Linked DNA regions of Homo sapiens: regions 1, 3, 4 and 5 are each linked to region 2. The links come from fine-mapping of genetic effects on gene expression. A gene starts in region 2. Each other region holds a variant in brackets. All regions are shown on one strand. Distances are from middle to middle. Region 1 holds the start of PKP3 (plakophilin 3). Region 2 holds the start of SIGIRR (single Ig and TIR domain containing). Region 3 holds the start of PTDSS2 (phosphatidylserine synthase 2). Region 4 holds the start of EPS8L2 (EPS8 signaling adaptor L2). Region 5 has its middle 4.1 kb from the start of B4GALNT4.

What was found.
Region 1: its variant is fine-mapped to the expression of SIGIRR in whole blood (TOPMed, PIP above 0.99).
Region 3: its variant is fine-mapped to the expression of SIGIRR in prefrontal cortex (GTEx, PIP above 0.99).
Region 4: its variant is fine-mapped to the expression of SIGIRR in lymphoblastoid cells (GTEx, PIP 0.92).
Region 5: its variant is fine-mapped to the expression of SIGIRR in esophagus muscle (GTEx, PIP 0.99).

The regions. Positions count from the first base shown.
Region 1 is chr11:389,323-394,416 of GRCh38, reverse strand. It overlaps PKP3 (plakophilin 3), which reads right to left and starts at 208. Exons shown (of 13, transcript NM_007183.4): 1 at 1-208. The coding sequence starts at 124. RefSeq lists an enhancer at 1-755. The variant C/T (reference allele first, on the strand shown) is at 2,996.
Region 2 is chr11:412,938-418,034 of GRCh38, reverse strand. SIGIRR (single Ig and TIR domain containing) reads left to right here and starts at 3,036. Exons shown (of 10, transcript NM_001135054.2): 1 at 3,036-3,212. It overlaps ANO9 (anoctamin 9), which reads left to right. Exons shown (of 23, transcript NM_001012302.3): 23 at 1-97. RefSeq lists silencers at 804-853, 1,064-1,143, 1,174-1,293, 1,354-1,423 and an enhancer at 1,944-2,563.
Region 3 is chr11:446,174-451,270 of GRCh38, reverse strand. It overlaps PTDSS2 (phosphatidylserine synthase 2), which reads right to left and starts at 992. Exons shown (of 12, transcript NM_030783.3): 1 at 634-992. The coding sequence starts at 815. RefSeq lists silencers at 308-397, 408-467, 658-897, 2,525-2,834, 2,925-3,214 and enhancers at 928-1,207, 806-1,492, 3,225-3,364. The variant T/GGCCGGGGCGGGGAGAT (reference allele first, on the strand shown) is at 2,968.
Region 4 is chr11:701,502-706,598 of GRCh38, reverse strand. It overlaps TMEM80 (transmembrane protein 80), which reads right to left. Exons shown (of 5, transcript NM_001042463.3): 5 at 2,470-3,654. The coding sequence ends at 3,449. It overlaps EPS8L2 (EPS8 signaling adaptor L2), which reads right to left and starts at 368. Exons shown (of 21, transcript NM_022772.4): 1 at 311-368. It also overlaps a transcript of DEAF1 not described here. RefSeq lists a silencer at 422-551 and an enhancer at 1,528-2,455. The variant T/C (reference allele first, on the strand shown) is at 2,830.
Region 5 is chr11:362,866-367,962 of GRCh38, reverse strand. No RefSeq gene overlaps it. Among named protein-coding and RNA genes, the nearest start is that of B4GALNT4, 4.1 kb to the left of the region's middle. The variant C/T (reference allele first, on the strand shown) is at 3,168.

The DNA of each region.
Region 1 (5,094 bases), 24 kb after region 2:
GCAGCCGCTCGGCCTCCGGCCCCTCGGCGCCCCGGCGGTCCAGCTGCAGGTCAGAGGGCAGCGCCAGGGAGCACACGCCGGCCTCAGGCTGCAGGGCCGACAGCAGGAAGTTACCGTCCTGCATGGCGGCAGGTCCACCGGGCCTGGGCCTGGCGGCCGCCTCCAAACCCAACTATCTTCACGTCCTGTCCCTCGAGGCCCTCTCCCTGAAGTCCCCGCCCAGCCAGCCTCACCCAGAGCCGCCTGAAGACAGACGCCTGCCCAGCCCTGAGCGCAGCTGGGGGCGGGGACACCTGGCCAGGTGGGAGGGAGGGGCCGCCGCCTGCTTAAGGTGGAATTTGGGCGGAAGAACAGGCCCTGCATGGCCCCAGGTCCCAGCCTGGCCTCCCGCCTCCTTTTCTCCCATCCCACAACAGGGCCACGGGGACCTGGGTCCTTCTTGTTCTCAGCCTGTAAAGGCCAGACCGGGCCCTTTGTCGTGGGGCTGGGACAGAGGGGCCCTCTGTGTCCTGAGTGTCAGGGAAGGGCAGGGGGCCTGCGGGGGGCCTATGTCCTGCCACCCCCAGCATGAAGGGGAGGGTGCCCCAGTCCCTGGGGGTCTAGGGCCCTAGGTAGCTCCAAGAATCAGCCAGCCTCCATGGTAGCCCAGCCTTCCTGGTGAGGTGGGGATGAGGCCTAGGAAGGGTTGGCAGGAGACACTGTCGGGAGTCAGGGGTCAGTGCCAGGGATCAGGACAAAGGCTGGAGGGACAGAGCTTTAGGGTCCAACGGGACTCCATGGAGGCCCTGGCCCTGGTCCTTGGAATCCAGCGAGCCCCCTCCGCACCAGGAAGCATGTGGATGGACCGGCCCTCCCCCGAAGCCTGCAGACCCTGGAACTCACCCCCAGGACCCCCTCACCCCCTACAGAGGCCTCCAAAACCCTCTCTGGCTTCTGGGACCCTGGCACCACTGCTCCTGCACCCCAGGCCCTGGGGTGGGAGGCCGTTCCCAGCACATGAGTCAGGGTGCAGGGGGGCGGGGCCGCCCCAGGGGGTTGACTCAGAGGGCCTGCACTCCTGTCAGCGCATGTCAGGCTGGGGCAGGAGCGGGTGTGCAGGGAAGAACCAGGGGTCTGGAAGAGCAGAGGCCTGGATGGAGAGGGAGCGAGGGTGGGGGGCCCCTGGTGGGGGTGGGGTAGTGGGGGGCCCCTGGTGGGGGGGCCCTGGACCAAGCAGGGCTTGTGCCCAGAAGGTCTCCTTCTAGCACCACAGCCAGCAAATGGGCTCTGAGGCCCTCTAGCCTCTGGGACAAGCCCCTGGTAGATGGGGGTGGGGATAAGCCTAGGAGGGCTGGGGGTGGGAGCTGAACATCTATGACAACCTCTGGGCTTCTCTCACGAGCTCATCGGACAGCCTCTGCTTCTCCCTGGACCCTGGACCCTGGCTCTGGGCTCTCCTCCAGGGCAGACCCTTGCCCCCTAGCTCCGTCCCTGGAAGATTTTTGCCTTAATGGGGCTGGGGCAGGGGTCTGGCGTGAGGGCCGGGTCAGGGTTAGGAGGCAGCATTAAGGGTGAGGTCAGTTCTGAGGGGAGGAAGCTGGAGAGTAGGAGTCGGAGGTCAGCGTGGGGGGTTAAAGGGGGAGGGGAAGGTCCACTGAAAGGATGGGTGAGGCCCGGGCTGGGGCCACCAGGTGGGGTCGGGGTGGTGGGGAAGGGGTGGGAGACCTACCCGGCTCGTGGTCCGGATCCCGCCAGCCTCCCAGCTCATCCCAGAGGCCACTGCTGACGGCCGAGGTGTCCAGGACTCCATCCCTGGCCCGGCGCGTGCGGGGCAGCCTCTGCGGCGGGGACAGGACTGTGGGGGCCTCGGAGGGCGGGGTGGGAACGCCCAGCTCATCGGACTGGCTGATTCCCTGGGAGACAGGTTTCGTGTGGAAAAATCCTGGGAGACAAGTTTGTGCGGCGCAGAGCGGGCCTGGAGGTATGTGCCTGGCATGGGCTGGGTCCCGCCCTGCACCCAGGTCCACCCCAGGCCCACCTGGGGCCCTGCAGGGGCCAGGCTGGGCGGCATGAGGGGGAAGCCAGCCTGGAGGGCCTCTGCAGCCCAGTCAGGCCGAAGGGCTCACAAGAGGACTCAGTGAAGGGGCTTCCGTGCGGCTGGAGCTATGATGGGAACGCCGGTACCCCGCGGCCTGCAGGGCCCCCAGGGCCGACTCTGCCCACCTTCCCTCCTCCCCTTGGCAGAGAGGGCTGTGGGTGCCCCCCCCCAGAGCTGCGGCGCCTCCCTGAGGATGCGTGGTGCCCGCCAGGCACAGTTTTGGCAAAGCCAGGAATCTGGGGTGCACCTTCCCTCACTGCGGCCGGGCCAGACGGATGGCGATGCCTGCTAGGCCACCGCTGCAGCTTCCAGCTCCAGGCTCGGCGGAGTCTCATCTGATCCCTGTGACCAGCCCTGAGGGTCGCACTCTCCCTGGAGCCAGCTCCTGACACAGGAGCCCTGGAGGGGGGCTTGACGGTAGGCTTCCTGGAGGAAGCGGTTGTCTGTGGGGCCCGGAATCTGCACGGAGCCTCGGGCCGCTTGGGTGCACAATCAGGTTGAGAGCCTGGAACCTGAGGGCCTCGAAGGGTGAGTGAGCGCTGCTCTTAGATGGGTCCTGGGTGGGGTGTGGCCTGTCAGTCACCTCCCAAGAGGCGGTGGGAGAGGGCGCAGGAGGGCTTCGGGGCATGGTGGGCTCAGCGTGGGGGGCACGGGAGGCGCTCACAGAGAAGGTCGGCTGGGCCCAGGTCGTGGGCAGAGCTGCCAGGTGCGTGCCCGGAGTTGTGGGAGGGCACAGAAGACAAACCTCCAGGGCAGAGCCTGCGTGGGTGGAGGGGGTTGGGGTGGTCGTCTTAAGGAGCAGAAGGGGGAGGATCTGGGGAGAAAGGTGTGAGGACGTTGGAAGCAAAATATAGTCAAAGCCGAATTCAGGAGTGAGCCGGTGCACAGAGAGGCTTGGGAGGCTGCCTCAGGTCCCAC[C/T]GCCTGCAGGGGCGGGGTTCGGAGTGCATTAGGGGAGCCCCTTGGTGGTTGATGGACCCGGCGTGGGGGCACAGCTCACCCAGAGGCAAGCGTCCTGGCGCTTCCTGTTGGCGCCCACGCTTGCAAACCTTCTGACTTGGGCTCCAGCCAAGTCCAGCCCCTCCACGGAGCCTGCCCGGCTGCCCATGGGCACCACCCCTCACCTTGTGGAGTGTGGCCCCTGCCCCGCGCCTGTGGCTGGGGCAGCTCTGAGGTCTCTGGCCTTGGTCCTTGGCATGGAAAGTAGCTGAGGGGTATGGCCCCTGTAGGCTCTTGGGGGGGACACCTTTCATCTGCACACACCCCGTCCACTGCCGGCCTGTTGGTCAGTCTGTCCATCTGTCCGTCCACTACTTGTTCGTTCATCAGACGAGTCCCGGGCTCTTGCTATGCCCCCGGCGCTCCTCTGGGGAAGGGGGCGTCTGTCTGAGGCAGGCGGGGCATCTCCCGGGGGTTCTCCTGGGGTCTGGCCTCAGGACCCCGGCGCTCCTCTGGGGAAGGGGGCGTCTGTCTGAGGCAGGCGGGGCATCTCCCGGGGGTTCTCCTGGGGTCTGGCCTCAGGACCCCGGCGCTCCTCTGGGGAAGGGGGCGTCTGTCTGAGGCAGGCGGGGCATCTCCCGGGGGTTCTCCTGGGGTCTGGCCTCAGGACCCCGGCGCTCCTCTGGGGAAGGGGGCGTCTGTCTGAGGCAGGCGGGGCATCTCCCGGGGGTTCTCCTGGGGTCTGGCCTCAGGACCCCGGCGCTCCTCTGGGGAAGGGGGCGTCTGTCTGAGGCAGGCGGGGCATCTCCCGGGGGTTCTCCTGGGGTCTGGCCTCAGGACCCCGGCGCTCCTCTGGGGAAGGGGGCGTCTGTCTGAGGCAGGCGGGGCATCTCCCGGGGGTTCTCCTGGGGTCTGGCCTCAGGACGGTGTGTGGACCCATTCAGTTAGCCCCAAGTGTTCCTCACCAAATTGCAGCTGCTAACAGGTGGCGGCCGCTCCTGTTGCTTTCCTGTTATAAACAGGTGGCGCTGTGGGGCCAGGTCCTCCTCAAACAAGGCGGAGGAGGGAAGTCCTGGGAATCGGGGGCCTGGCCTAAGAAGGTGCCTTCTGAAAGGAAAAAAGCTAACCCCTCCATGGAGAGGTCCCTGTATTCACAAGACTGTGTTGATTCCTGACATGGTGGAGGAAGGAGGCCTGAGATGCCACTCACAGTTGTGCCAAGAGATGGGGAGGGGGGCCCAGATTGGAGAGGAGAACTCTGGAGTCCAGGACGAGGTCCATCCTCCTTCCCTTGACCCCTACAATCCCTGGGGTTCCTGGATGGCAATGGTGGTCTGGACGACTGTAGCTGGGGAGAGGAGGCTGGGGACCCATCAGTCCTGCTGTACCATTTGGGAGACTGGCCCGAGGTCCGGCAACCCACGTCTCCAGGGATGGTCTGTCCTCCAGCGGTCCCCTGTGGGCGGAGGATGACCCAGGTGCCCAGGCAAGAGACTGAAGGCACAAACTGTTTCAGTATAATAAAGAAAATAGAATAAGAATAGTCATAATACAAATTAGATATAGAGATGCTCATGGACAATTATCAATCATTATTATAAACATTATTAGTCATTAGCTTTTAATATTACTCTTTGTTCCATTACTATATAACCTAGGAATAAGCGGTGGGTATAGGGTCAGGTGCTGAAGGGACGTTGTGAGAAGTGACCTAGAAGGCAAGAGGTGAGCCCTCTGTCACGCCAACATAAGGGCCGCTTGAGGGCTCCTTGGTCAAGCGGTAACGCGAGTGCCTGGGAAGGCACCCGTTCCTTAGCCGACCGCGAAAGGGAGTCTCCTTTCCTTGGAGAGGTCGGGGAACACTCTGCTCCACCAGCTTCTTGTGGGAGGCTGGATATTCTCCAGGCCTGGCCCGCAGTCATCCGGAGGCCTAACCCCCTCCCTGTGGTGCTTGAATGATCACACTCCTTGTCCACTTTCATGCTCCTCCCGTACTCCTGGTTCCTCTTTGAAGTTCGTAGTAGATAGCGGTAGAAGAAATAGTGAAAGTCTTAAAGTCTTTGATCGTTCTTATAACTGCA
Region 2 (5,097 bases):
GCCGTGCCCCCATCCTGGCTGTTGGGGGTGTCCTGAGCCCACCTCGCTGGCCTGTTCCCTTCAGCCAACCCGTTTCTGCAGTAAAATTAAGCCTGTCTGTCTTGCTTTCCTGGCCTCGCTGGGTCCCGGGTGGATTATATCTGCCCTCAGGGCTAGATGGGAAACAGACCCGGAGTGTGGAACGTCTGGAACCAGGTGAGGCCGCCTCAGGCCGCCTGTCCCTTCTCCAGTTTTCCATGGGCTTCCAAGGGAGGGGCGCCTATGGGGTCCTCTCCCCGTCCCTGCACCTGGGGTGTTGAGGGAGGCAAGAGAAGACATCGGGGCCACTTGAGGGTGGGGTGGGGGTCAAGGCAGGCTTCCTGGAGGAAAGGGAAGAGATAGGGGCGGACGCGCAAAACCTTGAGGGCGGTGGACGCTCCGAAGAGTCCCCAAGGCTCTGGGGCTCCGGGGCTCTGCGCGCTGGTTGGGCTGGTTTGGCCACTGGCCCCAGGCCCGTGCGGCAGCGGCTCCCGGGCAGCAGCGCAGCCTCCAGCGCCAGCCTTGGGCGCAGAGCGGGACGCTGGGGTCCGCCCCCGCCCTGACTGCGGGGCGGGGCCGCACCTGCTGCCGCTGCCGGGGCTACGCCGCCGCCGGGGCTGTTGCCGCTGCGCACCTGGCTCAGGTGAGCTGCCCCGCCCCCGCCCGGCGCGAGCCCCAGGTCCTGGCAGCAGGTGAGTGGCGGTCGCCATCAGACCCGCGAAGGTGAGTGGAGGTCGCAGTCCTCCCAGAGCCGCTGCAGGCCTGGAGTCGGGGCCCGGGGCGCTGCTTGTCCCTGGGCGCGGTCTCTCAGGAAATGGCTCGGGGCCGGGGAGGTTCCCGCGTCGCCCGGAAGCCCGAGCTCGCCCGCGTCCTGGCCCTTTCCAGGGCTGGGGGAAGGGAGGAAAGTGGGCGAAGGGGGCGGGGGCCACCCTTTCCTCTGCCCGACGTGGTCAGCGGCTTTTTGGTGACCCTCGCGCAGAACAGAGCGGGGCTAGGAGCGCCGAGGCGCGCAGGGATCCCACCTCGGTCGCCCAAGCCTGGATCCCAGCTCGAGGCTTCCTGAGGCGCCGAGGGCGGACCAAGAGTCAGGCTGGGGCCCGAGCTCGCCCGGCGCCGGGTGGAGCTTCCGCCATCCGCGCGCCTCTGCCCCGGCCGAGCGCCCCGAGCCGCACCCCCGTGCCCGCCTCCCGCGCGCGTCCTCGTTCTCCGCCCTCCTCACTTGGAGGGCGCCCAGGGCGCAGGTGGGCGCGGGGTAGGGGAGCGAACCAGAGCCCCTCGGCCTGCGGGGCCGCAGCCTTTTACCCACGTTCCTGCTTCAGGACAGGCGCTGGGGGCCCAGCGCGCACGGGGAGCGGAGGGGCGGCGCGTCCGAGCTGAGCGGGAGTCGCCCGCAGGGTGCTGGGTGCTGAGCGTCGAACCCACCGGGCAGGGGCGGCCGCGGACCGAGGACGCTGGCTGGGTCTGAGGGCGGGAGGAGCTGGCGCTTTCTAAGAACCTCAAGGTGCCCAGCAGAGTGCGGTGGGCAGTGCGAGGCGACCAGGGCCAGGCTTGGACTGAGATTCTGGGCGCCTCGGAAGAGCTGTGCGGGCGAGGGTCGGAGACTTTGTGGGTGTTCATGCTCACCCTGGACGGTGGACCTGGGGGCTCGGGGGTGCAGGACGTTAGCAGAGAGAGGGAAGGAGAGGGTGCCAAGCCAGCCCTGAGAGATGGTGACGCTGAGACCGGGTGCACAGAGCAGCCGCCGAGCCGGGGCTTCACAGTTGGCGGCTGACCCCAGGGCCTGTGCTGGAGGCCCTGCTCCTGCTTCCTGCGGGGGTGCCCTGGGCCCTGCTGTGCCTGCTTCCTGACCTGCAGTGTGGGGAGAACCTTCTTGAGGGGCTTCCAAGGACCCACTTCAAGGAGGGGCTGGTACCAGGCTCTGTGGGGGAAGGGGTGCTGTCTTTGGGACCCTGAGCCCAAGGCCCACCATCACCCAAGGCTGAGTACCGGGACAAAGGAAGGTCCTAGCAGGGCTGGGACTCAGTCAGACAAGTACCTGTAGAAAGCCTGCTGCTGAGAGGGTGCTCAGCCAGGGCCGGGAGGCTGGATGGCAGCCCTCCACAATGAAGCCCTGCCCCCATGTGGCTGAGGGCAGGGCCAGGGTCCAAAGGAGACCCTTGTCTGATTCTGTGGGCAATACCAGCCACCGGTCACTGGGTCCCCAGTCCCAGGTCAACCTGGGGAGTGTCAGTTTGGTGACAACAGGAGATGCCATCTGCCCCTCATCTGCTCTGAGCCAGGAGCCTCGGCCACCTGTGTTTGCTCCTTATTTGGAAAAGGGGGCGCTGCCCTCCCACCCCAGCCTGAAGGGAAGGTCCACAAGATGCCATAGTCCCTTGTAACTGCTCACCCATCGGGGGAGCTATGTCTGGGAGAGGGACGGGGAGAGGGCGGAAGAGTTCTGCTGGAGCCCCATTGTTGACCGGGAGTTTCTGAAGGCCCTGTTCCCCGGGGTCAGAGGTCAAAGACACATGGGGGAGCAAACCGGCCCCTTGGCTCCTGAGTGTGAGCTCTAGTAGCGTCTGGAAGGCATGCCGCGCGGTCCCCGGTCCTCCTTGTATGTGTGCAGGGTGGCCCTGGCGGGGGTCTCCTGGCTGGAGGACCCCCCATGCATTACCCCTGGAACCTGCCCCTTTGAGCACCCCCCACCCCACAACACACACGCACACACACAAACGCACGCACACGCACATACTGCACACACATTGCACACACGCAGACACACTGCACACACACACACACACACACACACACACACACACACACACACGCTGCACAGAGGAAAGTGCCGTGCCTGGGTGGGTTGGGGCGGGCTCCAGAGGAAGGAGCCGCTTGACTCAGAGCTACAGGAAGAGCCGGGGCAGGCGGGGTGAGAACCACCAACTGCCCGTCCTCCCGCCCGCCTAGGGAAGGGGTGGGTGCCTGGGTGGGGTTTAGGGTTAGGAGAGGATGTGACTGCAAGGCCAGGAAGCTACAGGGAAAGTTCTGATCAAAATACACAAAGACACAAGCCAGGTCCCCACCGCGCTTGGCGATGCATCCATAGCAGCCTTGGTGCTGTGGACACTCCCTGGGGCCCAGCGAAGGGGAGAGTTTGCTCCCAAAGGCGCACCAATGACCAACATTTGCCCCCCGGAGGAAAGAACTGGAACCAGGTGACTGCCTTCCCCGCTGCTCTGAGTGAGCCTGTGTCAGGGCCTGGCTGAGAGGAGGCCCACGGCGCCCAAGACCCATATGCATGTGTGTGCATGTGTGTGTGAGACAGAGCGAGGGGCAGCAGGAGGCTGTGTCGCATCAGCGGCCAAGGGTGGGTGTCAGGTGCAGTGTGTGTGCTGTGGGGTGCCTGTGGTCCTAGGCTCTGTGACAAGCGTTGCAATGGGTGTTGTATATACTCAACAGTTGTGTGAGGGGTCTGCAGCCTAAGCTGTGTGCAGTGGTAATGGGAGGTGTGTGTGGTAGGAAGTGTGCTGTGTAGGAGGTGCAAGTGTGCACACGGGCTGAGACTGAAGCTCTGTGCAGGTGCACATGGGCCAGAGGGCTGTGTGTATGTGATGTGTGCAGGGGAGGAGGGGCAGAGGAGAGGGTGCAGGGGAAGTTAGGGAGGGGAGGGGGTACAAGGAAAGGTGTGCAGGGGAGAGGGTGCAGGGAAAGGTGGGGAGGGGAGAGGGTGCAGGGGAAGGTAGGCAGAGGAGAGGGTGCAGGGGAGAGGGTGCAGGGGAAGGTGTGCAGGGAAAGGTGGGGAGGGGAGAGGGTGCAGGGGAAGGTAGGCAGAGGAGAGGGTGCAGGGGAAGGTGTGCAGGGGAGAGGGTGCAGGGAAAGGTGGGGAGGGGAGAGGGTGCAGGGGAAGGTAGGCAGAGGAGAGGGTGCAGGGGAAGGTGTGCAGGGAAAGGTGGGGAGGGAGAGGGTGCAGGGGAAGGTAGGCAGAGGAGAGAGTGCAGGGGAAGGTGTGCAGGGGAGAGGGTGCAGGGAAAGGTGGGGAGGGGAGAGGGTGCAGGGGAAGGTAGGCAGACGAGAGTACAGGGAAAGGTAGGGAGGAGAGAAGGTGCAGGAGGAGGCAGGCAGAAGAGAGGGTGCAGGGGAAGGTGGGGAGGGGAGAGGGTGCAGGGGGAGGCAGGCAGAGGAGAGGGTTCAGGGGAGAGGGTGCAGGGGAAGGTGGGCAGGGGAAGGTGGGGAGTGGAGAGCGTGCAGGGGGAGGCAGGCAGAGGAGAGGGTGCAGGGGAAGGTGCGTAGGGGAGAGGGAGCAGGGGAGAGGGTGCGGGAAGAGGGTGCAGGGGAGGGTTTGCAGGGAGAGGGTGCAGGGGAGAGGGTGCAAGGAGAGGCAGGCAGCGGAGAGGGTGCAGAGGAGGGTTTGCAGGGGAGGGCACCTGCTTTCTTGCTGTGCTCGTATCCTGGCAGTCTGCCCTTGACTTCCAGAAGGCTCTGAGGCTGCTTTTGGAGGGAGGACTTTGAGGTCTGAGCTTGGGGCGGTCACGGAAGCACTGCAGGAGATGCCAGGGGTTCTGCTGGGCTGGCGGTGTGACCTCCCGGGCTTGCTGTGAGGGGTTGGTTTCCTGGGAAGTGTGTGCTTTAAGGACCCTCAGTGGGTGGTTCCCCTGGGTCAAGGACTTTCCTTGGAGTGTCCTCCACCGCAAAGGACTTCTTCAAGGACCCCCTGGCCATCCCCCATGGGTGTGTGCCTCATGCTGTATCGGTTCCCGAGGAAACTGCCAAACAGTCAAACCTGGGGCCTCTGGCTGTGCTTCACCCATGGAGAGGGAATAGGTGGCAGGCTAAGAGGACTGTCCCTGCCACTGCCTCTGGGGCCTTAGCGGGGAGGAATCCTGAGGGAGCTGGGGTGCAGAAACTTAGGCTTGATCCCCACATCCCCACTTCCACTGTGTCCCTGCAGCAGGGAGGGGAGTAGACAGTCAGTGCCTGTTGGATAAACAGGGTGACCCTGTGGCATCCAGTGAGGAGAGGCCCCTGGGGCCCTGGGCTGCCAAGGAAGAGGCTCTGGGCTTCTCCCTGCAGCCACCTCACTGAGGAGCTTTGGGAGACTTG
Region 3 (5,097 bases), 33 kb before region 2:
GGGGACCCCAAGGTGTAGCTAGGGCTGAGTTGTGCAGGGAGGAGGCGCTGGCCCCGCTAGGGGCAACTGAGGAGAGAAACAGAGCCTGGATTCGACGAACACCGACTACATTCCTGAAGCACGCACAACACTCTGCTAATCAACACGATCGCCACGTGGGGTCGGGCGCGACACACAAGATGATTTCGTGCAGCCGCAAGCACTGAGGAGCAACCACAGGCAGAATGACGGGGGACACAGGTGAAGCTTCGACAGCAGGACAGAGAAAGCGTTTCTGGGGTGACGCTGGAGGCGGGTGGCGGGGAAGGGGTCTGGATCGCAGAACCGCGCGGTCAGAGCCAAGGCGGGCAGGGGTGGGGAGGGCGGCGAGAGAGACGCAAAGCGGCCGCAGGGAGGGTCTGCCCAGGGTCTCCCCCACCTACAGCGCCGCCCTCCGCCCGACCCGGCGTCGGGAGCTCGGTCCGGCCGCTCCCCGGGACCCGGGGGGCGGTGCTGCCACACCCTCAAACCCCCGGCCACAGTCCTGGACTCCAAGACGGCGAGAGGGCGCTGCCGGGGACCCCCAGGCCAGCGGTGCCGGAACCCCCAGGTCGAGGGCACCCTCGCCGCCCCGCGGCCGCCCACTGCCCTCACCAGAAGAAGGTGTTGGTGCCGTCGTCGTAGACCTCGGACTCGGTGCTGCGGCGGCCCTCGCCCGGCCCGGTGGCTTGGCCGGCAGACGGCCCGTCAGGCGGCTCCTCCAGCGAGGCCCTGCCCGCGGGCACCGGGGACTCGGGCCGCGGACCTCCGGCGTCCCTGCGCTCGCCCCTCCGCATGGCGTTTCGGCCCGGAGCCACTCCGCCCGGCGCCTCGACCCCACGCACACCGGGTCACCGGCGAGAGGACGCGCCGCACACAGCGCGAGGAGCGCTGGGAAGGGGTCGCGGCGCTGGCCCGCGGGGTCTTAGGAGAGCAGCGCGGGGCCGGCCAGTAAAGGGTGTGCGGTGCATTGTGGGGCTTGTAGTCCGCGCGGGGCATGCTGGGCCTTGTGGTCCGACGTCGCGGGTTGGACGCAGTGCTTGCTGGGAAGGATGACGCCTGGTTGCTGGGAAACCGGAGCCGGACCGCCCTGCGGCTGAGGTCGCAGGAACCAAGCTGCGGATGGCGCGGGTCTCGCCAAGGCCTCCAGAGCTTGGAGGTAACCACAGACATCCCCGGCGGCCTGGCCCGAGTCCCTCCACCCCTTCGCCCCTTCCTCGCCGACGGATCCCGGAGCCCAGCCCCGTTCTCCTTTTGGGGCGCTTCCCGACCCTTCACCCCATGCGACCCGGGTCATTCCTTTTTGAGACGGAGTCTCGCACTGCCGCCCGAGCTGGAGTGCAATGGCGCGATCCCGGCTCACTGCAACCTCCGCCTCTCGGATTCAAACGATTCTTCTGTCTCAAGCTTCCCGAGTAGCTGGGATTACAGGCGGCCGCCATCACGCCCGGCTAATTTTTGTATTTTTAGTAGAGACGGGGTTTCACTATGTTGGCCAGGCCAATCTCGAACTCCTGACCTTGTGATCTGCCGCCTCGGCCTCCCAAAGTGCTGGGATTACAGGCGCGAGCCACCGCGCCCGGACCGGTCTGGGTCATTCTTTCGCAGGATCGCGTGAAATTGGGCGGGCGAAAATGGTGCGGACACGCTGATTTTAGTTGACCCAAATTGTTGACATGGTACCCTGCAAAAAAATTAGCTCCTGAGCCACTCTGAAAAGCAATGTGGCAGCTCCTCAAACCTGGAAACAAGTGTCCACGCCAAATTTACACACTAGCGCTCCTAGTTGCAGCATTTTGATAATAGCGGCATGTTATTAGCCATAGAGGAGCGAAGCATGCGCATGCTACAGCACAGCTGGACCTTGAAAACATTATGCTAGGCAGGCCGGGCGCGGCGGCGCACGCCTGTCATCCCAGCACTTTGGGAGGCCAAGGCGGGCGGATGACTTGAGGTCAGGAGTTCGAGACCAGCCTAGGCAAAGTGGTGACACCCCATCTTTACTAAAAATACAAAAATTGCCCTGGCATTGTGGCGGGCGCTTGTAATCCTAGCTACTCGGGAGGCTGAGGTGGGAGAATCCCTTAAATCCGGGAGGTGGAGGTTGCAGTGAGCCGAGATTGTGCCACTGCACTCCATCCTGGGCGACAGAGCGAGACTCCGTCTCAAAAAAAAAAAAAAAAATGCTAGGTGAAAGAAGCCAGTCACAGGAGACTACGCATTATGTGATCCATTTGTATGAAATGTCCAGGAAATGCAAATCTATGAAGACAGAAATTAGATGAGTTTTCACCGGGGGCTGGGGAAGGGGTAATAAGGAGCGACTACAAAGGGTAGCAGGTTTCTTTCGGGGCGATGAAAGTGCTGTAATATTGACCTCAGCTCCTATCTGTGAATGTCCTAAAAACCACTCAACTGTCCACTCGAAACGAGTTGAATGGGTGAACTGCATGATATGTGAAGTATATCTCATATCAGCTTTATTGAAATATAACTCACATACTAAATATATAAACATATTTGCGGGGCTCCTGCACAGCCACGCCCAGCAGGGATGGGGCCTGACTGTGATGGGACCTTCACCCCAGCTCCTGACACACAGGCTGGGCAGTGCGGGAGGCGCTGGCTCCAGGGGGCGTGCTGTTGGGCCTCCCCAGGCCTGGCCCCCTGCCCCAGGCCCTGGCCGCGTCCAGCTGGGGTCGGCTGAGTGGCCAGAGCAGCCAGCTCCCGTCCATGCCATCTTTCCAGCAATCACCCGACAGGCCTGGTTCCCTGTGAACCATCCTTCAGGTCCCCTCCCAGACCTCTTCCCATCCCAGCAGGTGGCGCTCACATTCCAGGCGCCCTCTCGGTGGCGTTGGGGTCATTTCCTGCGTATGGGTGTTCTCTCAAACTGCACAGAGAGCCCTCCTGCCGTCCCTCCAGGGTGCAGAGGCCGGGGCGGGGAGA[T/GGCCGGGGCGGGGAGAT]GTACCGGCCCCACTGGGGTCCCTGGCCCCAAGGAAGCTGCGCGCGAGGCCGCCTCGCAATGACGCTCGTTCCTGTCGGCTCGGGGGCGGGGCCCAAGGGCGCGTGAGGGGCGGGGCCGAGGACATGGTCTGTGGGCGGGGCCTGAGGGCGGGGCCTTGGGACCCGGAGTAGCGTGATCTAGACCGCGCGGCCCCGCCAGACCGCGCGGCCCCGGGCGCGCAGACCACGTGTTCGTTGCCCATCACTACGGAGCTCTGGCCACGTGCCAAGTAGAATTCCCAACGCTTTGTAAATGCTAACTATTGTGATTTTTTTTTTTTTAAGCGTAGTCTCACTCTGTCACCCAGGCCTGGAGTGCAGTGGCGTGATCTCGGCTCACTGCAACCTCCGCCTCTCGGGTTCAAGCGATTCTCCTGCCTCAGCCTCCGGAGTAGCTGGGATTAAAGGCGCCCGCCATCACGCCCGGCTAATTTTTGTATTTTTAGTAGAGACGGGGTTTCACCAAGTTGGCCAGGCTGGTCTCGAACTCCTGACCTCAGGTGATCCACCCACCTTGGCCTCCCAAAATGCTGGGATTACAGGCGTGAGCCACCGCGCCGGGCCAACTATTGTGATCTTAACACACCCCCTTAGGTTCTATTTTTGACTGTCGCTTAGAGACAAAAAAACTGTGGCAGAGAAGGCCGGGCGCGGTGGCTCAAGCCTGTAATCCCAGCACATTGGGAGGCCGAGGCGGGTGGATCACAAGGTCAGGAGATCGAGACCATCCTGGCTAACACGGTGAAAGCCCATCTCTACTAAAAATACAAAAAATTACCCGGGCGTGGTGGCGGGCGCCTGTAGTCCCAGCTGCTCGGGAGGCTAAGGCAGGAGAATGGTGTGAACCTGGGAGGCAGAGCTTGCAGTGAGCTGAGATCACGCCACTGCACTCCAGCCTGGGTGACAGAGCAAGACTCCGTCTCAAAAAAAAAAAAAAAAAAAAAAAAAGAAACAAACAAAAAAAAAACTGAGGCAGAGAAAGGTTGGTGACAGCTACGCCCAGCTCTTTCCAGACCCCAGAGCCTCTACCCTGAACCCCTGCACTCTACAGGGAGCTCTCCACCTGCAGTTTTGCACCTGGCGTCTCATATCTGAGTCTCACATTACCCTGTCCCTGTCTTCACCCCAGCTGCAGAAGTGCACACCCCTCCCCACCCAGGCATGTGTGGACTGGCAGAGTCCATTGCAAGACGTGGGCCTGAGGGGCAGGGGTGAGGCCGGAGGTTTGTGGCTCAGGGAGCACCGTGGCTGGTGAGGAGGCAGTGGAGCAGCTTGGAGGACTTGGTTCTTTGAGGCCCCAGAGCAGCAGAACTGGGGGTCCCCCGCCTGGGGAAGGGTGCACGGGACAGAAGCCTTCCTCAGCTGCAGAGATGCCTGCCAGAAGCCTCAGGGCGCTGGAACTTTTAAGAAAATGGTCAATTCTGGCCTTACCCAGGGACAGAGCTGGCCAGAGTCACATTTATGGTGGTAAATAGTGAATGTTGGCGAAATGCTTTCTAAAAATGCCCTTGCAAGGAAGGGAGAGGAAGCCTAGGAATTTGTAAAGTAACAAATGCCTGTTGTAATATTTCCCCTGGTGCGGTAAATCCATAAAGGTGAGTGGATTACAGAAAAACTCACCGTGCCACACGCACACCTGTGCCCGGGAGTTTTCTCTGGCTTGTTGGAGGGAGCGTGGACAGCAGGACTGCTCCCCAAGTCAAGATGGTTAAGGCCTGGAGGTGTTGGGGAGGCAGCAAGGAGACAGAGTTGTCCCTGCAATGAGGACGGGAGGGGTTTGGGTCCCCACCCCAATGCCACCCTGGTGTGGCAGGCAAGGATGGCTTCAGGTGGTCCTCAAGGGCAGAGGCCCAGCTGGGAGAGGGTCTCCCCTGCAGGGGCTTCAGGCTGGGGGTCGCCTGCCAAGCACTGTCAGCCAAGAGAGGCTGGAGCCAGCAGGGTGCCTGAGACCAGCCCAGAGAGAGTACAGGGGCAGGTTCTCAGAGGCACCGACTCCAGCTGACCCAGAGGGGCTGCCTCTGAGCAGTGCCTGGACGAGTCTGCTCGTCCAGACACTGTGTCTGTGTCTGTGGCCGCGCCCAGGAGGCTGT
Region 4 (5,097 bases), 290 kb before region 2:
GAGCTGGGAGTGGGCAGGACGGGGCAGGTGAGTCACCCATCGCTGGCTTAAAAATATCCTTGCTCGCCGGCCGCCGCCCAGGACCGACGGGGGCAGGCCGGGCTGCAGCAGGACCCGTCCAGGAGAGGTGGGGACTCGACCAGGCCCCCAGCCCCTTGCCCCGCGCCCTCGGCCCGGCCGCCCTCCAAGTGCCCCGCGCCCTGCGACGCCGCGTTCGTCCCGGTGTCCTGAACCAGAAGCCCCGCGTCCCATCGCCACCGGGTAAACTGAGGCCCGGGCGGGCGCGCTCCCCCGTGTCCGCAGCGCTCACCTGCCTCCGGCGCCCCGCGCTCGGCCTGTCCCCTCGGCGCTCGCCGGTGCGTCCGTCTGTTCGCGCCTCGGCCGGGGCGCCAGGTCTCCCGCGGGCGGGTGGGACGCTCGGCGGGGCCGGGCCGGGGCGGGGCCGGGAGAGGAGGAACCTGAGCGACAGGTTGCGGAGTCACCCGAGAGCGGGCGGGCGCGCGGGGGAGGAGGGCGTGGGATGGAGGCGCCCCCGCCGGCCTCGGACCCAGCTCCGCCCCGCCCCCTGCCCCGCCTGGGCTCCAGCCCCAGCCCTCTGCGTCCTCCCCAACACCCGCCTGGTGTGCCCCTCCGCGGGCCTAGCCCCTAGAGCTGGGGCGCTGGGGACAGGCGGGGCGCAGGGCCGCCTCCGCGGGATGAGCAGGGCGAGGCCTCGAGCTCTTCCTTGGGCAGGGCCTAGCTGCGCCCCAGCAGGCCGGGGGACGGGGGAACGCTGCCAATGGGACTTCGGGGGCAGCGCTGGCGCATTGCTGGGGAGGGCTCCAGCCCTGGGGAGGTCAGAGCCTCCGCCGGGCCAGGTGCACCCCTCAGGTGCCCCAGGCATGGGGCAGAGTCACTTCCCTTACCGGGCCCACCGCAGGCCCAGGGGCAGAGGCTTCGGTGAGTGGGTGGGTGTCAGGCAGGACCCAGCCATGCCCACCCCAGGCCTGGAGCCCTGAGTTCACAGTGCAGCTGCTCCTCCAGGCCCCCCTTTCTGCCCAGCCTGGGCACTGAGGGATGGGGTGTCAGGGGAGGTGGGGACACCTCAGGCCCTCTCAGGATGCCTCTCTCCTTGCACTGCCCCGTGGTCAGGCCCAGGCCCCACCTCTGCCCACCACAGTGGGACTGTCTGGTTCCGTCCTCATCTGCCCGGCTTCCAGGATGGCCCTTCTCCCCAGCTGCTGTGACCGCTCAGAACAGGGCCAGGGTGCAGTGGACACAGCGGGTAGCACCGGCTGCCACAGCAGTCAACTGGACGAGGACGAGGTGAAGGGGCACAGGGCGCCCCAGGCCCATGCAGGGACCCAAGGCTCCGGCTGCCGGTCCTGGGTAGGGGTGGGAATGAGCGTGGCCAAGAGTCTGGGTCCCCGGGCTATGGTCCCAGAGGGGCAGGGCTAGCGTGTTTACCCTGGGCTGGCCGGAGCACTTCCTGGGGAGGCGCCATAGGTGAGCTCGGTGGAGGGCTGGCAGGAAGTGGCCCTCCTCCTTCGGGCCCAGTGCCTGCCCCTGAGCCCAGGCAAGACCTGGCTTCCTGGTTTACAGCCTTTGCCGTTTGATCTCCAGGAACCTGCCGTGATCCTGCTCCATGCATGAGCTTGCCCTGACCCAGAGCTCAGGGTCACACACGCCAACCCCTCGGTGCACCCGTGCCCTCACCCTTCCTGGAGGCAGAGCTGGGAGTGGCCAAGTGGGAAACAGGCGCTGGAGAGGACAGCTGGGGGGTGGGGTCCCTCTCCACTCCTAAACGGGTGCCTGTCAACACGATTTTGAGTGCGGAGCCTGCCCTCAGGAGACAGTCCAGGCTGGCCTCTCGGGCCCCATCCACTCCGGGTCACCTGGAGCCATGGCGTTCCCTGTGGAACAGGTGACCACTGCCTTTGTGTGCTCGCTGAGACTGGAGGTATCAGGATCCATTAACCATGAAGGCAACAGGTCTCCAGCTTCAGGGAGGGGGTCCTTCCCTGGTCTGCATGGTTTGTGGGCTGGGTCCTCCAGATGGCAGGTGTGCCCAGCTGGTCTTCTGCGAGTGCAGGCGCTGGTGAGGGAGGTGGCCCGAGGCGCTCAGGCGCTGGTGTGTGAAGTGGGTCCTCAGGGCTGTCCTGCAGCTCACCGTGGCCACTGGGGGCCACAGACAGGTCAAAGGAAGTCGGCCCAGGACAACTGGGTGCTCCCACCGCTTCCACGAAGACAGGCAGGAAAGACTGTCCAGGTGCCACAGCCACAGCCACCCCAGCCGAGGGAGCCCCAGTGGAGGCCCAGGACAGTCCCGCAGCCTCCTGCCCTCAGGAGTCCACCGAGCGGAAGGCGCCCGGCAGCCAGGGCCCGAGGGCGAGGCCAGCCAGGAACTGACCAGCTGGCAAGTGGGGTGTGCTCTCTTGCAGGGCAGGAGAACTGGAGATGGGGTGGGGGAGGTGGCCATAATTAGGAGAATTCAGGGAGGCATACACATCTCTTTATTTACAAAATGCGGTGAAGAGAAAATATCTAGATATTTGGGTGTAATTATTCCAAACATAGAAAACACACAATAGAATCAAGTGAAGGGAAAGCTACTGTAACAGCTTAGATACTTTTTAAGGAGAACTGATAGTAAATCTGGGAATGGGAAAAAAACACAGAGCTAGAATTTGTTTAGCACTCCGTGCAAAAGGCAAAAGCTGATAAAACTGGAGTGGACGGAGGCTCCGAATGTGGCCCTCCGCTGCTCTCTCTCCTGCAGTCTCATCCCCGGCCTTAGCCCTGACCTCTCCTCCGAAGCCCCTGAAGGGAGAAGTGTGGCTAAGATGGAAA[T/C]TGCTAGGCAGCAGAGCTGTTGGCTTGTTTGCATTTATTGCTTTAGGAACCCAGAGTCCACTCTTGCACCGGGCCTGCCTGCCTGTGAGGCAGAGCTGGGGTTGCTCAGAGCACAAGGCCTACCCCATCCTGCGTCTCCAGCCCGACTTGGAAACACAGGTGGGGCCTGGCCACGGAGTAAACTGGGATCTCAGAACACAAATTAGGACCATTGGGGAACTAGGGGGTGATGGGGGATGCAGTGAGATGAGGCCTCTGTTCTGAAGGGCTCTGTCCTCCCTCTCGGCCCTGGGGGCCCATGGGGGTCTGTGGAGGCCTGGCTGCTAAAGCCAGACCCCACTGACAGGGCTGAGTGTGCGCTCCTGGGACTCATCTTGAAGGCAGTTCTGTCTGGTCCCTACCCTCCCCGCAGCTGTTCCCAACACCAGGGCCTCCAGCAGTTTGTTCTGCCCTGGCTCCTGCTCCCACTCCTGCCAGAACAGATGGAACCATCCAAAACCATCTATGGCCAGTCACTAGGAAAAGTGCCCTTCCTGTCCAGGAATGGGGAGGTGACAGCTGGGGGACTGGTCAGGCCCAGGAGGAGGGCCCCAGTGTGGGGTATCCCGGGTGTCCGTAGCTACCTGGTGAAGGCCGCGATGGCAACCACCTGCAGGACGGCCTCCAGGCCGTGAAGGGCCAGGAGCGTGGCGCTGAGGGCCCAGTCCGCCCACAACACTAGGGCCTGCCAAAGCAGGAAGTGGGCAGAGAGGAGGGCGGTGCCAGCCGTGAGGGCCAGGCTGGCGGCCAGCGGCCTCTCAGCCTCTGTCAGGTTGCCCCTGGTGCCTGGAGAACAGAGCAAAGGGGAGGGAAGGTGGTGCGAGGCGCTCCCTGGAGCCCACCGCCCACAGGTGCCTGGAGGGCTGCTGGGACCAGAGCAGCTCCTTGCCCTACGTTCCTCCGGGGCCTGGGGAATTCCAGGGAAACAGCCTCCATGGCCACCCAGAACTCAGGAGAGCCAGAGAGCATGGGCAACACAGGCGTGAGCCCCTCCTGGGGGAGGTGCCCCTGCAACAGCATGGTTTGATCTGTCTCTGGGTCTTCTGGGTCGGCTGTGTGGGCGGGGGTGAATTTGGTTTCTAAAATGATTCAAGTGCATCTGCCACGTTTTCCTAATTCCAAGTGGAACTGAAGGGATTTTTTTGAAAAATTCCCAAAGTATTTTTCTCTGGTCCAAGGCCAGTTCTGGAAAATTTCACGAGTATGTATTAAAAACAAAACTGCGTATTTAGCAAACAAATGGGTCAGTCACTAGCTGAGCCCAGGTGCCTGGAGACCCTGCAGTGTGCGGCGCGCTTGGGGAGGGTCCCGTTGGCCTAGCAGCCCCCAGCAGGGCCAGGCCACACCCTGTCCCCACCACCTCAGGGCAGGCCCAGGCCCCAGAAGATCAGCCAAGAACCGGGCCTCTGTGCCGCAGCGGTGCTCGCACCCTCCCAGCAGTGCCCGCCCTGGGGGGCAAGCTCTAGAGGTTCTGGGACGTAAGTGCAGACAAGACACTGACGGCCGGGCACCCCTCAGTGGGATGGGCAGCTGAGAGAACTCGCCTCCATCCTCCTAGTGTGTCTGAGGCCTGATAACAAGAGGAAGGGTGGGGGCCACCCTTCCCCGCAGCCTTGGTTCCTCACTGGACATCAGGCATCAGGGGTGTATCTGTATGTGAACAAGAGGGGCCCAAGATTCCAGCCTGGCAGGGGCACAGCGCCCTGGAAGTGCCCATTGCGTTCCCCACGGCAGGACAATGTTTCACAAACACGTGTGTTTAGGTGCACATGTTACGACCATGAGCACGCAGAGGGCTGGAAGTCTGCACCCCGCTGGCCACAGAGGTGAGCTCTGGGGAGGGCGAATTTCCATGTTTTACTTCTGCACCCCTTGAATCTTGTACAAGAACATACCCTTGAACAAATTGTGTGGTTAAAAAAAGGGGAGTGAGGCCAGGCACTTTGGGAGGCCAAGGTGGGCAGATTGCTTGAGCCCAAGAGTTCAAGACCAACCAGGGTAACATAGCGAAACCCTGTCTCCGGCCGGGCGCGGTGGCTCACGCCTGTAATCCCAGCACTTTGGGAGGCCGAGGTGGGCGGATCAGGAGGTCAGGAGATGGAAACCATCCTGGCTAACATGGTGAAACCCCATCTCTACTAAAAATACAAAAATGAGCCGGGCGTGGTGGCGGGCACCTGTAGTCCCAGTTACTCGGGAGGCTGAGACAGGAGACTGGCGTGAACCCGG
Region 5 (5,097 bases), 50 kb after region 2:
CTACAGGCATGCATCACCATGCCGGACTAATTTTTTGTATTTTTTTTTTTAACAGATTCAGGGTCTCACCATGTGTCCCGGGCTGGCGTTGAACTCCTGGGCTCAAGTGATCCTCCCGCCTTGGCCTCCCAAAGTGCTGGGATTCCAGGCGTGAGCCACTGTGCCCGGCCAGTGGTGCTCTTTTATGTGTCTCATTCTGTTTCTCCAAGTCCCATATTTTCTATGTGCATCTGTCTGGCTGTGCGTCTAATGCTTTCCCTCTTTCCACTGCATGGCACCCCATCCTAGGCACATTCATCCAGCCAGTGGACGCTACCTAGTATTCTAGTGTCCTGACGAGCCAGGGACTTAGGGGACACAGCAGTGAGCAAGACAGAAAAGGGCCCTCCTTTCATGGAGTTTACATGTTACTAGGCAGGGACAGACCAGTGAACGCATAGTCGCTTTGCTGGTGGTGAGTGACGTGAAGGAGATGAGCTGGGTGATGGAGGGAGGCCGGCTCCCGCTCCAGGGTCGCTCTCTGGGGAGGCAACGGCTGGCCTGACCCGTAAACAGGTTCTTAGAAGGCAAGTGTTGGCAATGTCGGGAGAGACGTGTTTGGGACACTTCATGGGTCCACAGTCAGAGGGTGTCCCCTGTGGATCCAAAGCATAGTAGGTACAATTGAGGGGCGAGCTGGGATCTGCCGGACGCAGATGCTCCATATGCTACCACATCCGTCTCGGCCCCTTCTGGAGAAGAACGGCCACCGCCTCACTTCGGTGTGACCCAGCCACAGAGGAGAAGGTTCTGGGAAATGGGTCTCCAGCTTAGAATAAGAGAACAACCTGGCCGGGCGCGGTGGCTCACGCCTGTAATCCCAGCACTTTGGGAGGCCGAGGCGGGCGGATCACGAGGTCAGGAGATCGAGACCATCCTGGCTAACACGGTGAAACCCTGTCTGTACTGAAAATACAAAAAATTAGCCGGGCGTGGCGGCGGGCGCCTGTAGTCCCAGCTACTCGGAGGCTGAGGCAGGAGAATGGCGTGAACCCGGGAGGCGGAGCTTGCAGTGAGCCGAGATCGCGCCACTGCACTCCAGCCTGGGTGACAGAGCGAGACTCGGTCTCAAAAAAAAAAAAGAGAGAACAACCTGGCAGGTTCCTCCTCTTGACAACTCAGCACAGACGCACACTTCTTTTAAAAAACACATTTAACTTCCAAATAAAGCAAAAAACAAAGTCATGCTTCTACGTAACATGATGCAAATATTCCAACCAGAAGGGACTGAACAAAAGGTTCGTGTCATGTTATCCACATTTGAGAAGACGATCCTCGTTCTTCTAGTTTCTCTAAGAGCGTTTAACACTTGACACTGCAAAGTGCATGTTGGGGGTTGGATGACACAAATACTGAGATGAAATGTAAAGTTAACTGTTGTTAACGCATTTTATGCAGCTAGGAGGGCAATGGAAGAGGAAAAAAGCAGGAAGAACGGATAATGTCAGTACAAGTGTGACTTGTGTGAGGATAAGAAGTACTCACTTCTACGGTCACCAGGTCGTGGCTGGTACAGTCTTTATGGCCACGCTCTTCCGTCACTCCTGCGTGGTCCCTTTGCCCTCTGCAAGCACCTCTGCTGGTCGTGGTTCACTGTCTGGTGGGGTGACCCAAACGTTCCTTCCCAAAAGGCCTATGCTGTTAGCAGTTTTGCCTTATGGGGTGGTTCTGGTTTTCCAGTGGTGTTTTCTGCAAGGCTTAGAGGAGCTACGTGATATTACAGACGATCTCCTGCCTCCCAAATTTCTCCCCCTTAGCCCCATTCTGTGATCAGGTTCCAAGTTCCCCTTGTTGGGCTCAGTCAGCCGGACCAGCACAGGGACCCTCTTCTTTGTCGACCCCCTGGTGTGAGGAACCGGCGTCCAGGTGGGCAGTCTCAGCTTCCTGCGTAACGTGTCCCCTGGTGGAAACACTCCAGGGCTTTCCCAGGACCGAGGGGATTCCTAGGACATGGAACTTTCCGTTTTAAACCTGGGAAAGTCGGCTGGGCGCGGTGGCTCACGCCTGTAATCTCAGCACTTTGGGACGCTGAGGCAGGTGGATTACCTGAGGTTGGAAGTTCGAGACCAGCCTAACCAACATGGAGAAACCCCGTCTCTACTAAAAATAAAAAATTAGCTGGGCATGGTGGTGCATGCCTGCAATCCCAGCTACTAGGAAGGCTGAGGCAGGAGAATTGCTTGAACCCAGGAGGCGGAGGTTGTGGTGAGCCGAGATCGTGCCATTGCACTCCAGCCTGGGCAACAAGAGCAAAACTGAGCCTCAAAAAAATAAAAAATAAAAAAATGAAAATAAGACCGGCAAAGTCTTAAGCAAACTGGGATGAGTTGGTCCCTGGGAATCTGAGGCCTCTAGACCAACAGCGTGCAACACTGCAGGGGGCAAAACTTTCACTTGTGGCTCACTGGGGATTAACGACAATGGGAAGAAGTTGGGGTTTCCACTCCTCCACGCCTGGACCAGTGAGCCCCGGCTTTGGGAAAAGCCAGAGATTAAGTGCTGATTCAGTGGATCCGCTGCATCCAGAGGACCCCAGATCCACAGCATTGTCACTCAGCTGGTGCCAAAACTGAGCCTCCCAAAGGCCATTCCATCAGGAACACGGCGAGATCTGTGGGTTCCAGGAGCACCGGCCGGTTGCTGTCCCCAGGACAATGGCGATGCCGCCATGAGGAGCACCCCGTGGGTGGACGAGGAGCTCTGAATGTGTGGGGTGGTGGTTTGGGCAGAGGCATTGAGGGCACTGACCATCCACAGCTGGGGTGGGAGCCCATCCTGCTGGGACAAGCATCCTCCATGGTGGAGGAAGGGGCCAGTGTTGGTCTCCGCTGTTGGCTGCGCGGTGCCCAGGGTAATCCGCTTCCCACTGCTACAGCCACTTGGCCCGACTCAGGACAAGGGGAGCTGGGGAAAGAGGCTGCCTGATGCGCACAAATGGGTCATTTTGTCCGTCTGACTATTAGGGTCCCTCCTCTGCTGAGACAGGTCTTTGCACACAAATTCTTTATGCTCTGCCCACCCCAAGAGGTCTGTCTACATACCTTCACCCCGACCGTTTCATCTCTAACTTTGTAATCGTGCCCCTCCAAGTGCCTGGCCATCAGCTAGACGGTCGGCCGTGGCCGGGG[C/T]GTCCACGGAACTCTGCCTCCTCCTCCATCCTGCTTGCTGCTCGGCCCTGCGAGGACCTGCCTTTGCACCTGTCGTGCAGGCCTGGCCTCCCACACCCAGGTGAGGACCTGCCTTTGCACCTGTCGTGCAGGCCTGGCCTCCCACACCCAGGTGGCGCTGCCGTGCTGGGGCGCCCACTTCGGGGTGGTGCCAGCTTATTAGGCAGAGCCATCTGTGACCAGGGCTGCATTGTGCTTTCTGAGTCATCTGGTCCGAGGGAACGCCTCACGACCCAGTGGTGTATTTCAGAGAGATGAGGCAGAGTGAGGGGAGCTGCCTGTTCATGCCTGTTCAGGACCCACCTCCTCCACTGGCTTCCCAGGGCCCCCAGGACCTGTTTGAGCTGACCACGTGTAGACCACTTCCGTCGGTGGCATCTGCTGTGCACACCCAGCCCTGAGGCTGGTGGGTCCGACCACACCCAGTGCACGATGGCAGCCCAGGCGTTAGAATGTGCCTTTGGGGTTGGGCACGGCGGCTTATGCCTGTAATCTCAACACTTTGGGAGGTGGAGGTGGGAGAGGACGCTTGAGCACAGGAGTTCGAGACCAGCCTTGGCAACACAGGGAGACCCTATCTCTACAAAAAACACAAACATTTGCCAGGTGTGGTGCAAACCTGTAGTCTCAGCTACTCGAGAGGCTGGGGTGGAAGGATTGCTGAGGCCTGGGAGGTCGAGGCTGCAGACCTGTGATTATGCCACCGCACTCCAGACTAGGCAACCAAGCAAGATCCTGTGCAAAAAAAAAAAAAAAAAAAAAAAGAATGTGGCCCTTGGCCCTGCTCAGTATCTGGAGCCTGGTGGGGCCGGGACAGCTCTCCCCAGACGGTGGGGGCCGGGACACCTCTCTCCAGACGGTGGGGCCGGGACAGCTCTCTCCAGACGGTGGGGCCGGGACACCTCTCTCCAGACGGTGGGGCCGGGACACCTCTCTCCAGACGGTGGGGCCGGGACAGCTCTCTCCAGACGGTGGGGCCGGGACACCTCTCTCCAGACGGTGGGGGCCGGGACAGCTCTCTCTCCAGATGGTGGGGGCCGGGACACCTCTCTCTCCGGATGGTGGGGGCCGGGACAGCTCTCTCTCCAGACGGTGGGGCCGGGACAGCTTTCCCCAGACGGTGGGGCCGGGACACCTCTCTCCAGACGGTGGGGCCGGGACAGCTCTCTCTCCAGACGGTGGGGGCCGGGACAGCTCTCTCCAGACGGTGGGAGCCGGGACACCTCTCCCCAGACGGTGGGGCTGGGACAGCTCTCTCCAGACGGTGGGGCCGGGACACCTCTCTGCAGACGGTGGGGCCGGAACAGCTCTCCCCAGACGGTGGGGCCGGGACACCTCTCTCTCCAGACGGTGGGGCCGGGACACCTCTCCCCAGACGGTGGGGCTGGGACACCTCTCTCCAGACGGTGGGGTCGGGACACCTCTCTCCAGACGGTGGGGCTGGGACAGCTCTCTCTCCAGACGGTGGGGGCCGGGACAGCTCTCTCTCCAGACGGTGGGGGCCGGGACAGCTCTCCCCAGACGGTGGGGGCCGGGACCCCTCTCTCCAGACGGTGGGGCCGGGACAGCTCTCTCTCCAGACGGTAGGGCCGGGACAGCTCTCTCCGGATGGTGGGGCCGGGACACCTCTCTCCAGACGGTGGGGGCCGGGAGAGCTCTCTCTCCGGACGGTGGGGGCCGGGACACCTCTCTCCGGATGGCGTGGGCTGCAACAGCTATGTCCAGATGGTGGACCCTGGGACACCTGTCTCCAGATGGTGGCAATGCTTTGCTGAAAGTCAGTGCAGAGGCCAACCAGAGGTCCAGCCAGAAGCTCGACACAGTTCAAGCAGCACTGGATGTGCTTGGCCATGTGGCCCAAGTGGCCGAGCAGCCCATGTGGCACGTGGCC